Regions from separate parts of the Homo sapiens genome. Here region 1 is linked to region 2. A link means that fine-mapping ties the variant in region 2 to the expression of a gene that starts in the linked region. Tissue or cell type: whole blood. Region 2 holds a variant in brackets; the other region holds the start of a gene. All regions are shown on one strand. Distances are between the middles of the regions. Region 1 holds the start of FRY (FRY microtubule binding protein). Region 2 overlaps FRY (FRY microtubule binding protein).

The links. PIP is the estimated chance that this variant, and not a neighbour inherited with it, causes the effect. A credible set is the group of variants that fine-mapping cannot tell apart.
Region 1: it holds the start of FRY, and the variant in region 2 is the best candidate, but not a certain one, in a credible set for the expression of FRY in whole blood (TOPMed, PIP 0.83).

The regions. Positions count from the first base shown.
Region 1 is chr13:32,028,711-32,034,096 of GRCh38, reverse strand. It overlaps FRY (FRY microtubule binding protein), which reads right to left and starts at 2,323. Exons shown (of 61, transcript NM_023037.3): 1 at 2,232-2,323. The coding sequence starts at 2,301. It overlaps FRY-AS1 (FRY antisense RNA 1), which reads left to right and starts at 2,458. Exons shown (of 4, transcript NR_103839.1): 1 at 2,458-2,646.
Region 2 is chr13:32,295,885-32,301,270 of GRCh38, reverse strand. FRY (FRY microtubule binding protein) reads right to left here. Exons shown (of 61, transcript NM_023037.3): 61 at 2,146-5,386. Among named protein-coding and RNA genes, the nearest start is that of ZAR1L, 17 kb to the left of the region's middle. The variant A/G (reference allele first, on the strand shown) is at 2,233.

The sequences.
Region 1 (5,386 bases), 270 kb after region 2:
CCTCACCTCTCAAACTTGTGAGGCCAGGCATGCGCGTGCAGGTGCATGCAGGTGCAATTAGCCGCTTGCCTCATGGTGCATCCTCTCAGCCAAGGTTACACTGAGTATGTTGAGCCTTAGGGCTTCTGTTTCTACTTTGCCTTCTACACAGACAAATTCCTTTCTCTCTTTGCTGCTCAAAATATGTAAAACTTAGCAATGAGAACTATGCTAGATTGTAAGCAGGTTAGTGTTGTAACAAGCTTAAAGAAGATAAACAAAGTATATTTCCTCTTCCTCTTTCAAGAAAGGACTGAAAAACATTCTCCCCCTCAAAAGAATGCTGGAAAGCCACCAACTTCACTACTCTGAAATAAAAAAATTAATATAGTGGGCAGGGACTGTGTCTTATTCACCTTGTGTAGCCCCACAGCCTGGCACATAGTAGGTATTCAATAAATATTTGCTGAATGAATTGGAAGAATTCAAAATTGTATCACAGATATTCTCAAAGTAGAAATGAACAGTCATTTTGAATCATTTCCTGAAGTATGTATGTGGGGAGAGGAGTTTAGGAAGGGTGGAGAGAATATATACTTTATCTAGAGTGATTTGAAAATAGACAAGGGGAGAGAAATTTTTAAAAGAAATCCCATTGGCCTCAGTATTGTCACAACATAATTTTCTATTTAATGATGCAATGACAAAAATTGATGGAAGAAAACAGTCTGGTCTTGGAATAATCAAATATGTTTAAAAACCACGTACTGATGTCAACTCAAAAGTGAGTTTTTTCAGTTATTGGAAAACTGCTCCATAAAGAACACTGTATGTCAAATTCTTTTCATTAATCAAAGAGCAGATAGACAAAGGAAGATTCATCCTTGAGTGTAAAGTATTATAAAAATAATGAGTCCAAGTTAAATGATTTATAGCTATGACAAGTAAAGAATGCTGTTTGGGCAACAGTATTACTCCCAAATGGCTTCCCACTTGTAGAAAAACAGCTTCAGACAAGCCCCATAGTGTATACAGTGGTGCAAAATGACCTGGAAAAAATGGTTTCTATGGATATCATTTAGAGATGCACATCCCTGAATACCTTAAGGCTGAAGGTACTTTAGCTCTTTTCCTCAAAGCAATTGCAGCACAGGTTCTCCTGCCCAGGTTTTGTTTATATAAGAACAATCTTGGCCACAGGTCATTTGTGTAGGAGACAATTAATCACTAGCTCTTTGAGCACAGGTAGGTTAATCAGTATGCACATAATACAATATTAAAATTTTCACGGGGAAAAAATTTTTTTATTTAAAACAATAAAGCATCAGTAATACCTGCTGATCTTTTATCCAAAGCAAGTACAAAGGCTGTTAGTGAAATAGAGAAGACTTTCTTTTTAAACAGTTCGGAAAATACAAGGCATCATTGATCACCTGAAGGCCTCATTTTAATTTGATTCCAGATCCACGGCAGCTTAGAGGTTGTCTTTTTGAAATAGCGTATTGCTAAAATCCTTATGTAGGTCAGAAATGGAACTTCAGGAGCCATCATATTCTGCTATCCTAATAAATAATTAGGGTCAGAACCTCACTTGTTTATGTTTCAAAAAAGCACAATATTTGGACTATAGCAAACATCAGGATTTTTAAAAATTCAAATATTAAATGGCATTCAGAACATCATCCACATGGAAGAGGGAGAGATGAAATAAATCTGCAGATGCCTCTATATACAAAAAGGATGTCCTAGGTTTTGGACTATTAAATACTTTTCTTTCTTCAGACAATACCCTAAAAAAACAATTACAAAGTACTCTGAAACCCTGCCACACCCCTTTGATTAAATCACACTTCACAAAATATTTAGAGAAAGCCTGAACAAATCAAATAAACATCAAGGCAGGAAATGCAGCCAGGAATGCCTGATCCTGAGCTCCCCCAGAGTCTGAAGGGCTGCCTCACTTGAAAATTTAATCAAACACAATCTACTGTAATTCCATTGCAGCCTTTGCACTTAAGGAAAGCTAGTTCAGTCTCTGACATTTTGATTTTCACAGCAGATGGGAGCAAAAAAAGAAAGAAAGAAAGAAAGAAAAAGAAAGAAAGAAAGAAAGAAAGAGAAAAGAAAAGAAAAGAAAAAAAGAAAAACTTCCGCGGCTCACAAACATATGTGTCCAGTTGAGATTTTCTGTCTCCAGCCTTATGCAACATCCAGCAAACAAACAAACAAAAAGGTTATTTTCTATTACTCACTATTACTCCAGGATTTCAGTAAATATTTGATACTGATCTCAAAGAAGCCCGAATCCTGCTGGCTGGCCATGTCTGCGGCATACAAAGAGGCTGGGAGGACGGGCAGCGGCCGGGAGCAGGTACCGGGCGTGATGCGCCTGTCACAGGTTGTGATGTCAGCGCGGGGTCAGGCGCCCAGAGGCAGCTCTGCGGATCCACCTCCGGCTCCGGCCGGGAGTGCTCATCTAAAGGACACGGCGGAGCAGAGAGAGATGCTCGGCCGCTCCTCCTCCTCCGGGTCCAGGACTTGCTTCTTATTTGCTGGACGCTGATCTCCCTGCAGCCCTCGGAGGCGGCGGCCGCGCTGCTTTCATTTCGGGGCTGTCATCACCAGAAACGCCGGCTGCCGGCCGCCCACCAGCTCGGCTCCAGCCAGGTACGCAACCGAGGAAGACCCCACCTGAACTGGGATCGGCTTTCTTCTGGGAGGGAGGGTTTCTAGGCCGGCCTCCCTGACGCGGTGCAGGCAGCCTCCGGCCCACACGGCCGCCGCGGGGCTAAGGGATGGGCCGGGAGCGCCGCCCCCTGCCCCTGCCCACTGTCTCAACCTGAGCCGCGGCTCAGTCTCCGCCTAGGCTGCGGGAGGAATTTCCCAGCTTCTGCGGATCCTCTCTCTTCAGCAAGGCTTCCCGTGAGCGGCCCGGGTGTGCTCTGGCTGCTGCTTCCCCTTGTGTCTGTCCCTGAAATAAACACAACTGCAGCACGCTGCGGTAAGCAAAGCTGCAGCCTTGCATCTGGTTGCAGCGACGTTTTGAAAAACCCCATCCGTCAGCCTCGTTGCAGTAAAGAGACTCAACAAGAGGACGCTTGTCTGGGCTTTTTCTTCCCTGCCTTCCACACGCATGGTGGTATCTGCATTTTTACTTTTCCCTCCCAGAAATGCAGTCTTTTCAAGGGGCATCGGAGCCCGAACGTGTGCACTCTAAGGGGACAGTACACACTGCTTAGTTGGCTTGTTTTTGTAATGTCACACACTCCACAATGGATCTTATTCTCAAACCTCTCATTTCTAAGACTCACTAAGCCCAGTGAAGCTTATTTTATTTGTATGAAAAGGATAAGAAGCAAAAGCATTAGATTCCTTGCTCTACAATGGCTCTTGATTTCATGAATTCTTGATATCAGGTGTCCTGATTTTGGTTAGCTTTGTTTCACATTATCATTTAGCTTGACCAGGGGATTAAATAAGAGTATTATATTTTAATAATGACAGGTTATGTTGGAAGAGGTGGGATTTGGCCAACTATCTCATAAACCACAGGATCCTTCCCAAGTCCCAGTACATTCATGATTAATGTTGTCTAAAAAACAGAAAAAAGTAATAAACCATGTTAATAAGTATTTAACATAGCAAATGTTGGGCTAACTCCCCAAATCAACACACAAACAGGACTTCCTAGATTAACAGTTCATTTTAAAAATGGAAGGGAAAGACTACAATGTACTTTTATTGTTAGGACAAAGAATTTTTAAAATTCAACACTAAATAAAACTTCTAGAACTATGTTCTGAAAGGCCCTAAGATACTTCATCAATACAATTAGTTTTTCAAACTCATTACACTTACCCAAATGGCAAGCACTCAATCACTCAGATTTCCAACTCCACTTATACACTTTATTCTGATGAAATCTCTCACCAGATTGACTTCTTTTTAATTCATGTGCATACTAGAGTTGCTGAACTGATTTTATCACTTGTACTTTGAATGTATGGATTCTAGGTAAAATAAGACCCAAAGGTTTTACCTTGAAACAATTATTATATCTGAAAATAAATTTCATACCTACGCCCATCTGATGCTTGCCAAGACTCAGATGGCAGTGAATGAACAGGTAGGCTGCACAGTGCCCTGCGATTAACGATGGCATGGGCTCTCAAGGCAGGGCCCCATGTTCGCTCCTGGCACCAGCCCTTACTAGCTTTGAGCCCCAAAGTAAGCTATTAACTTTGCTAAGCCTTCGTTTCCTCATCTGTAAAATGGGGTTGTACCTTCTTCCTATAGTTGTTGGAAACAATAAATAACACTATGTATGAAAGGGGCTCAGCATAGTATCTTGCCCATAGTTAACACTTCATTAAATTTTAGCTACATTGATTTTTTTTTTTTTTTTTTTTTTGAGACAATCTCACTCTGTCGCCTGGGCTGGAATGCAGTGGTGCAATCTTGGCTCACTGCAACCTCTGCCTCCCGGGTTCAAGCGATTCTCCTGCCTCAGCCTTCTGAGTAGCTGGGGTGACAGGCATGCGCCACCATGCCCGGCTAATTTTTGTATTTTTAGTAGAAATAGGGTTTCACAGTGTTGGCTGGGGTGATCTTGAACTCCTGACCTCAGGTGATCCACCTGCCTTGGTCTCCCAAAGTACAGACATGAGCCACTGCGCCTGGCCCATTCATTCTTATTATGAATCCTTAGTGACTCTAGAATAGAACTTTTTTTTAAAAAGCTAAATACTTTTTTTTCTTTACTCTTTATGTGGTTTAAAAGATATATTACTTTTGAACACCAGTGGTAACTATTTGGGGAGAGCAAGTTGGAGACATTTAAAATCAGTTGCAATAAGCAAACATGCTATTGTATATTGTTACTCAAATATATAGAGATTCTCTCTGTTGACTTTATTTTAAAAAATTTTTAACTGGCTTTTTAAAGTTTTCAATACTTAAATACATAAGTTTTCAGTATTTAACTACTATAAACATACTAACTTGCTGAGAATGCCACTCATATATATTTCAAGGGAAACGGTCATAAAAATGTAAATGCTACTTAGAAAATAATGTTTTCAATGCCATCTAGCTTTCACTGTGAAGAGTGAATCAGCATCTAAGAGCCCAGTTTCTGTCTCTTAGAACCTGAAATCTTGTCCAGTGTATGCTTTTTCTTCATTCGAGTACCTTTAAAGAGGACATATATTGTAAAAGAACAGAAAAGGGCTTTTGTTTTGTTGAAAGGCCTGCAAATCAAATAGAATGACACCCGCTGCAAGCTGAGTTGAAACATTTATCCTTTTGTCTTCTCTCTCTCTGGGGGGGCATAAAAAAATTAGTCAGAAGAGGCACCTGGACAGAGGTACTTTAAAATGCAACAGTAAAATCTGAATGTGTTCCTGGC
Region 2 (5,386 bases):
ATAGTGTTGAGATTTGAGATTTTCTTGGTTGTAGTTGCATACTAGTAATGTCACACTTCTAGTAATGAAGACACTTCTAGTAGTGAAGATATGACTAGAAATGTAACATTACCAGTGTCATTGTTAGTGCGACACTACATGTGTGACTTGCATTCTAGTAATATCTTCATCCTACTAATGTCACACTTCTGGTGCAGGTGTGGGAAGAGTCAGTTTTAGGTTCAGCCAGGCTTGGGGTTTAACCAGCTGAGTAAGACAGGGGTAGGGCATCCCTTGTGAATGTCAGCAAGAGAGGGATTATAATGACCCATGGAATTTAAACATGCTCCAAAGAAGAGTAAAGACCTGTGAGGGCCACAGACTGATATTCATGATGGGAGAATTGTCAGAGGGGTGGGGGCTGGAGTAAAGGGGAACTGGGAAAATTCCTGAGTAGGGGGCCTGAAGGTGGGATTCTGGAGCTGGTTCACTTACTGCTATGGATCAGGTTTTGGTATAGCCAGGAAATTGGGTGGCTAAGGTAGAAAAGAGTGAAAATGCCTGGAGGTAAGAATGTTAACAGGATGAGAGGGAAAAGATTTCATACAGGTTATACACAAGACTCCTGAAGTCCTGGAAACGACATCGGAAGCTGGGGTGAGCAAGAAGCTCTAGTCTCTCCGATGAATAAGGGGCAGGAAGCAGGAGGGCTTTAGGTCACCAGTTCCCAAGCGCGGTTGCAATTCAAAATCATCAGAGGAGCGTTAGAAAGGATTTACGGGATCCGGAGGGGGGCCCAAGCCTCAGAATTTTTAAAAAGCTTCCCCAGTGCTTCTAATGCAGCTGAGGGTCACAGCCACTGCTGTGGATGACAGTGATGGAGTTGGGGAAGGAAGTGGCTAGTACAGCCAGGTGGCAAGAATTTCAAAGTCTCTGGGCTTTTCGAAATAGAGATGAGGAGAGAAGGGTTGGACATAGTAAAGGGGACCGGGAGGAATCTCTTTGTTCTCCTGGCCGAGGAGCTCCTGGAAGTTCGCACCAGGTGGCCCAAGTTCTTGGAATCTGAAAATTGAATACAATATCTATTCAAGTTTGCTGTTAAAAGAAGGATCTGGATTACAGAAGATGGTGACAGAGAAGGAGGCATCTGCCAGGAAACTGATCTGTAAGTGGATGCAGTAAATTCTAGTCACTCACTCACTGTGACCTCAAATAGGAAACAAAGTTACAAAAAGATCAATGACAGATTTGGGTAGAATTACTACACCAACAGCCTACGTGGAAAAACAACTGGGGGTGTGCTTTAGAAGAAAGAGCACTTCGCTATATAGGAAGTTTCTCCTAGTTCAGTGTCTTTCAAAGTGGAGTGGCTGTTACAATGCTGATTTGAGGGATCCTGCGCTGGATTTACCAAACTGGTCTCCAGAGGGGTCAACCTGAGGGATTCTGCATTTTTGACAAATACCCTGGGGTGACTCTTAGGTCTAGAAAGGAGAAAGCAATGTTCCAATCTTGGCAGTGGATTAGAATCATCTGGGGAAACTTAAACAGCACTGGAGTTTGAGCACAGCTTCAGACCAATTACATCAATTAAGACGAAGGCTGAGCGTTGGGGTTTTAAGTCCCTGACATGATTTAATGTGCATCTGAAATTTTGAGCCCATTACCTACACTCTAATTTTTATGAGAGATCCCAGTCCCGGCTGGACAAGACAGGGGAGTATCCTACTTTTTTCTCAGGGGCTTTAAATGCCATATGTGTGTCTTTAGCCCAGACTTTGCTCCTCAACAACAGACTCACACATCCACCTGTTTACTCACCATCTTGTCTTGGATATCAGACATCTCAAAGTTAACATGTCTGAAGAATAAATCTTGGTTTCTATCTCCCAAACATGCATTCCCGCATCTCAGTTAGTGGAAACTCCATTCCTCCAGCTGTTTGGGCTAAACTCTCTCCCATTCCACGTGTCATTGGTAAGCCCTGTCAGCTCTAGCTCTGAACTATTTCCAGAATATGCCCACAACTAATCATATCCCTTGCTAGTACCCTAGCCCAAGCCAGCATCGCCTGGTGACTGCACTGTTGCCACAGCCATCTCTCTAGTCTTCCTGCTTCTACCTCTGCCCATCTGCAGTCTATTCTGCACATAGCAGCCAGAATGATCCTTTAAAAAAATTATTTTTATTGTGGTAAAACATATATAACATAAAATTTACCATTTTAAAGTACACAATTCATTGGCATTAAGT[A/G]CATTCACAATGCTGTATAACCACCACAACGGAACTTTTGTTATAGAGCTTTTCTTCATCGCTATGAAGGAGTAATCCTTTTAAACATAAGTCACAGCATGTCACTACCCTGCCCGCAAACATTCAGTGGCTTCCCATCTTGCTCAGCAAGGGACAAAGTCCTGCCGTGGCCCACAGAGCTTTTGGCTGTCCTCTCTGAACGCTCTCTTCACTCATTTCACCCGGTCATTGGCTTCCTTGCTGTCCCTTTGACAAAGTGACCCTGCTTCTCCTTCAGGGTCTCTGCATGTGTTTTTTCCTTTGCTGGAATGCTCTTTTCCTTGGATATCCATTGTATCCTCACTTCATTCAGATCTCTCCTCAGATATCACCTTATTAGAGTGATAGCTAAGATAGCCCTGTCCACATTACTCACTGTATCCGTTTTGTTCTTCATGGCACTAATCATCACCCAACGTAGACAAGTACATCTTCCTCCACTCAAATGTAGGAGCCTCATGGGAACAGGGACCACATCTGCCTTGATAGCTGCGGTGTCCTCTAAAACAGTGCCTAGCCCAGAGTGGGCATGCAATAAATATTTGCTGAACAAAGAAATATCCTGGGTCATGATAGGTATCCAAATATTAATTGATCTCAAACAAATGCATTGAAAACTTTAAAAACTAGTTTCATTGAGATACAATGAACATACCCTAATACTCACCTATGGACACGAATTTTTTGTTGTTAAGGCAGGCATCAGGAAGCACGTGTAAGCTATTGATGTAAGCAGCCTGGAGGTACGCTTATTCTTTCCAGAATTCTACAGTTCACTGAAAAGATCATTGTTTGTTAGGACTTAGAACCAGAAGAGCCTTGAGACCTAACTCTGGATGTTCACGCATGTGTGTGATGCCTACAATTAATTACAGGCATCTTTATTTCACAGTAACATCGGCACATTTTCTTAACATCTCACCGATGTTAGATGGGTTAGAGGTGGGAATGACATTCACGTGCCTCTAAAAATGTGCAGTGCCTTTTCTAAAACACTATATTTGGAGACTATAATTTTAATCAAGTGATGTCTAAGTTACAGAGCGCCTGTCTGGATTGCTTTATTCTGCAGGTGGATACAAAGTGTATCATGTTTCAGTGCTAGAAAACAGTGAGACACAAGGAGGCATCTTTCTTATCACTGAGGCATCTGTTAAATATCTACCCTTTCCTTTGGTACTTCTACTTCTTTGTATCCCTGGGGAAGGCAATTAACATTAATGCTTCTGTAACAGAGGCACAGAGCAATAGCCGACAAGATTTGACTGGTAGATCTAAAGTTATTGCTGGGCTCTGCTGGCGTGGGGCTGCATCCTACACAATTTTTCCCATCTCCACTTAAAGTAGAGGAGGTGAAGAGATAGAGGAAAAGTAGAAGAAACCTTTCACATTAATACATCTCCTTTTAAAAATAAAATTGAGAAAAACACAGACCACTGCTTCCTATGTTAATATCTTGGATTGTAATGTACTGTTGAAATCCTTTTTTTTTTTCCTTCCCTTTTTAAGAGTAAACCATCACGGTGGTTCTCTGCTGGGTAAGAAGCCATGGTAGAAAACTCAGTTCATGACGAATCTGTTCTTTCTACTGTGGCTCCCAACAAAACTCTCTGAAAGTTGTCTACTGTGGTTAGCCACAGAAACCTTTATTTTATGATATTTTTCAGAGAGATCATGATTCAGTTGTTTCTACAAATCATAGCAAATCATCTTTCAGGCAAGTTGAAAAAAATAAATCATCAGAAAAATATGTTTTCAGCAGTCCAGAAAATTATTAAAATCTAGTAGTTGCATCTGTAGCAACTACTAGGATTTAAAAAAAATCCTAGGTTAGGCTCTCTTCTATAGAATACTCCTAGAATATTACTGCCAATGATTCAGTAGCCATATGCTAGTAAAGCAAGCTATATTTGTTGGTCCATGTAAAATATGAGTAGAAAGACGGCATAAATGAGATTGTTACATGTTTCTCCCTGTGTTCCTGGGGGATAGGTGTTGGTGACAGAATTACAACTCTACTACTTTTTCCTGCTCACTATAGAATTAACTTCCAAATTTGAAGGATGACAACCTAATTATAGGTTATGGAGAATTAGAGCTCTCACTTTTTTCTGATTTTTCTCTTTGGTTGATTACAGAGAATTGGTTGAAGCTCACAGTTTTGATGCCAACTTCCAAAGAGATAATACTTACCTCCAGCTTCACAGGGCCATGCATGGCATGACCCCCACGGGTGCCATTCAGATCATACATGCGAGGGGTGCCCCTTGGGGTTATTACTTTGGCAACCCACATGCAAAACTTCATGTGTGCCCAGGACAAACATTTTCATTAACCAGAAATAAAGTCCATGGTCAACGTGTATTTTGTCTTTTTTTTTTTTTTTAGTCTAAAGAAAGTTCTGAACAGAATATCAATTAAGCTTACATCACAAAAACTTTAAATGTATTTACAGAGTGAATAAGTTACATAGATAAACTCTGAATATGTTTCTGCAGTGCAACAAGTTCACATGCACACATCTAACACTTGACAGCATTAAGTTTAAGGAGAGAACTTAAGAATGGCCCTTTACATATATATTACACATAAAATATGACATCGAAGAAACAAAGTAACAACTCATATTTTACCTTTATGATTCTACTTCTGACTATCCAAACAGATATTAAAATATGCATGCCTGACAGGTGAAAAGACTTGGAATTTATCTTGTGAATAGTTTTCTCTACAAAACGGCAAAGTTAATTAAAATTAACACTCATCCTTCAGCAGTATAAATATGCTCATAAAAGCAACCTTCTAGTAAAAAGCAGCCAAGATCCTTAAAAAGAGTCTATCTGGACCATTTTTGGTGCAAAGAGATCCAGGGCTTTCAGAAACAGTAGCCTAGCAACATAAGAAAGGTACTTCATAGCAGCTCCTTTTAGATACAGTAATTGTATTCAAATTACAGTGTACATTACATTGCAGTCCATTTACAATTCCCTTTTCACATACACAGGCTGTCAGCTTTTGACCATCTTACAGTTTTCAGTGGCCAGCTTCATTTTGCCTGCCCCTTTCTCAGCCCACGAAAGAAAGGAAAAAGAAAAAAGAAAAAAGAAAAGAAAAT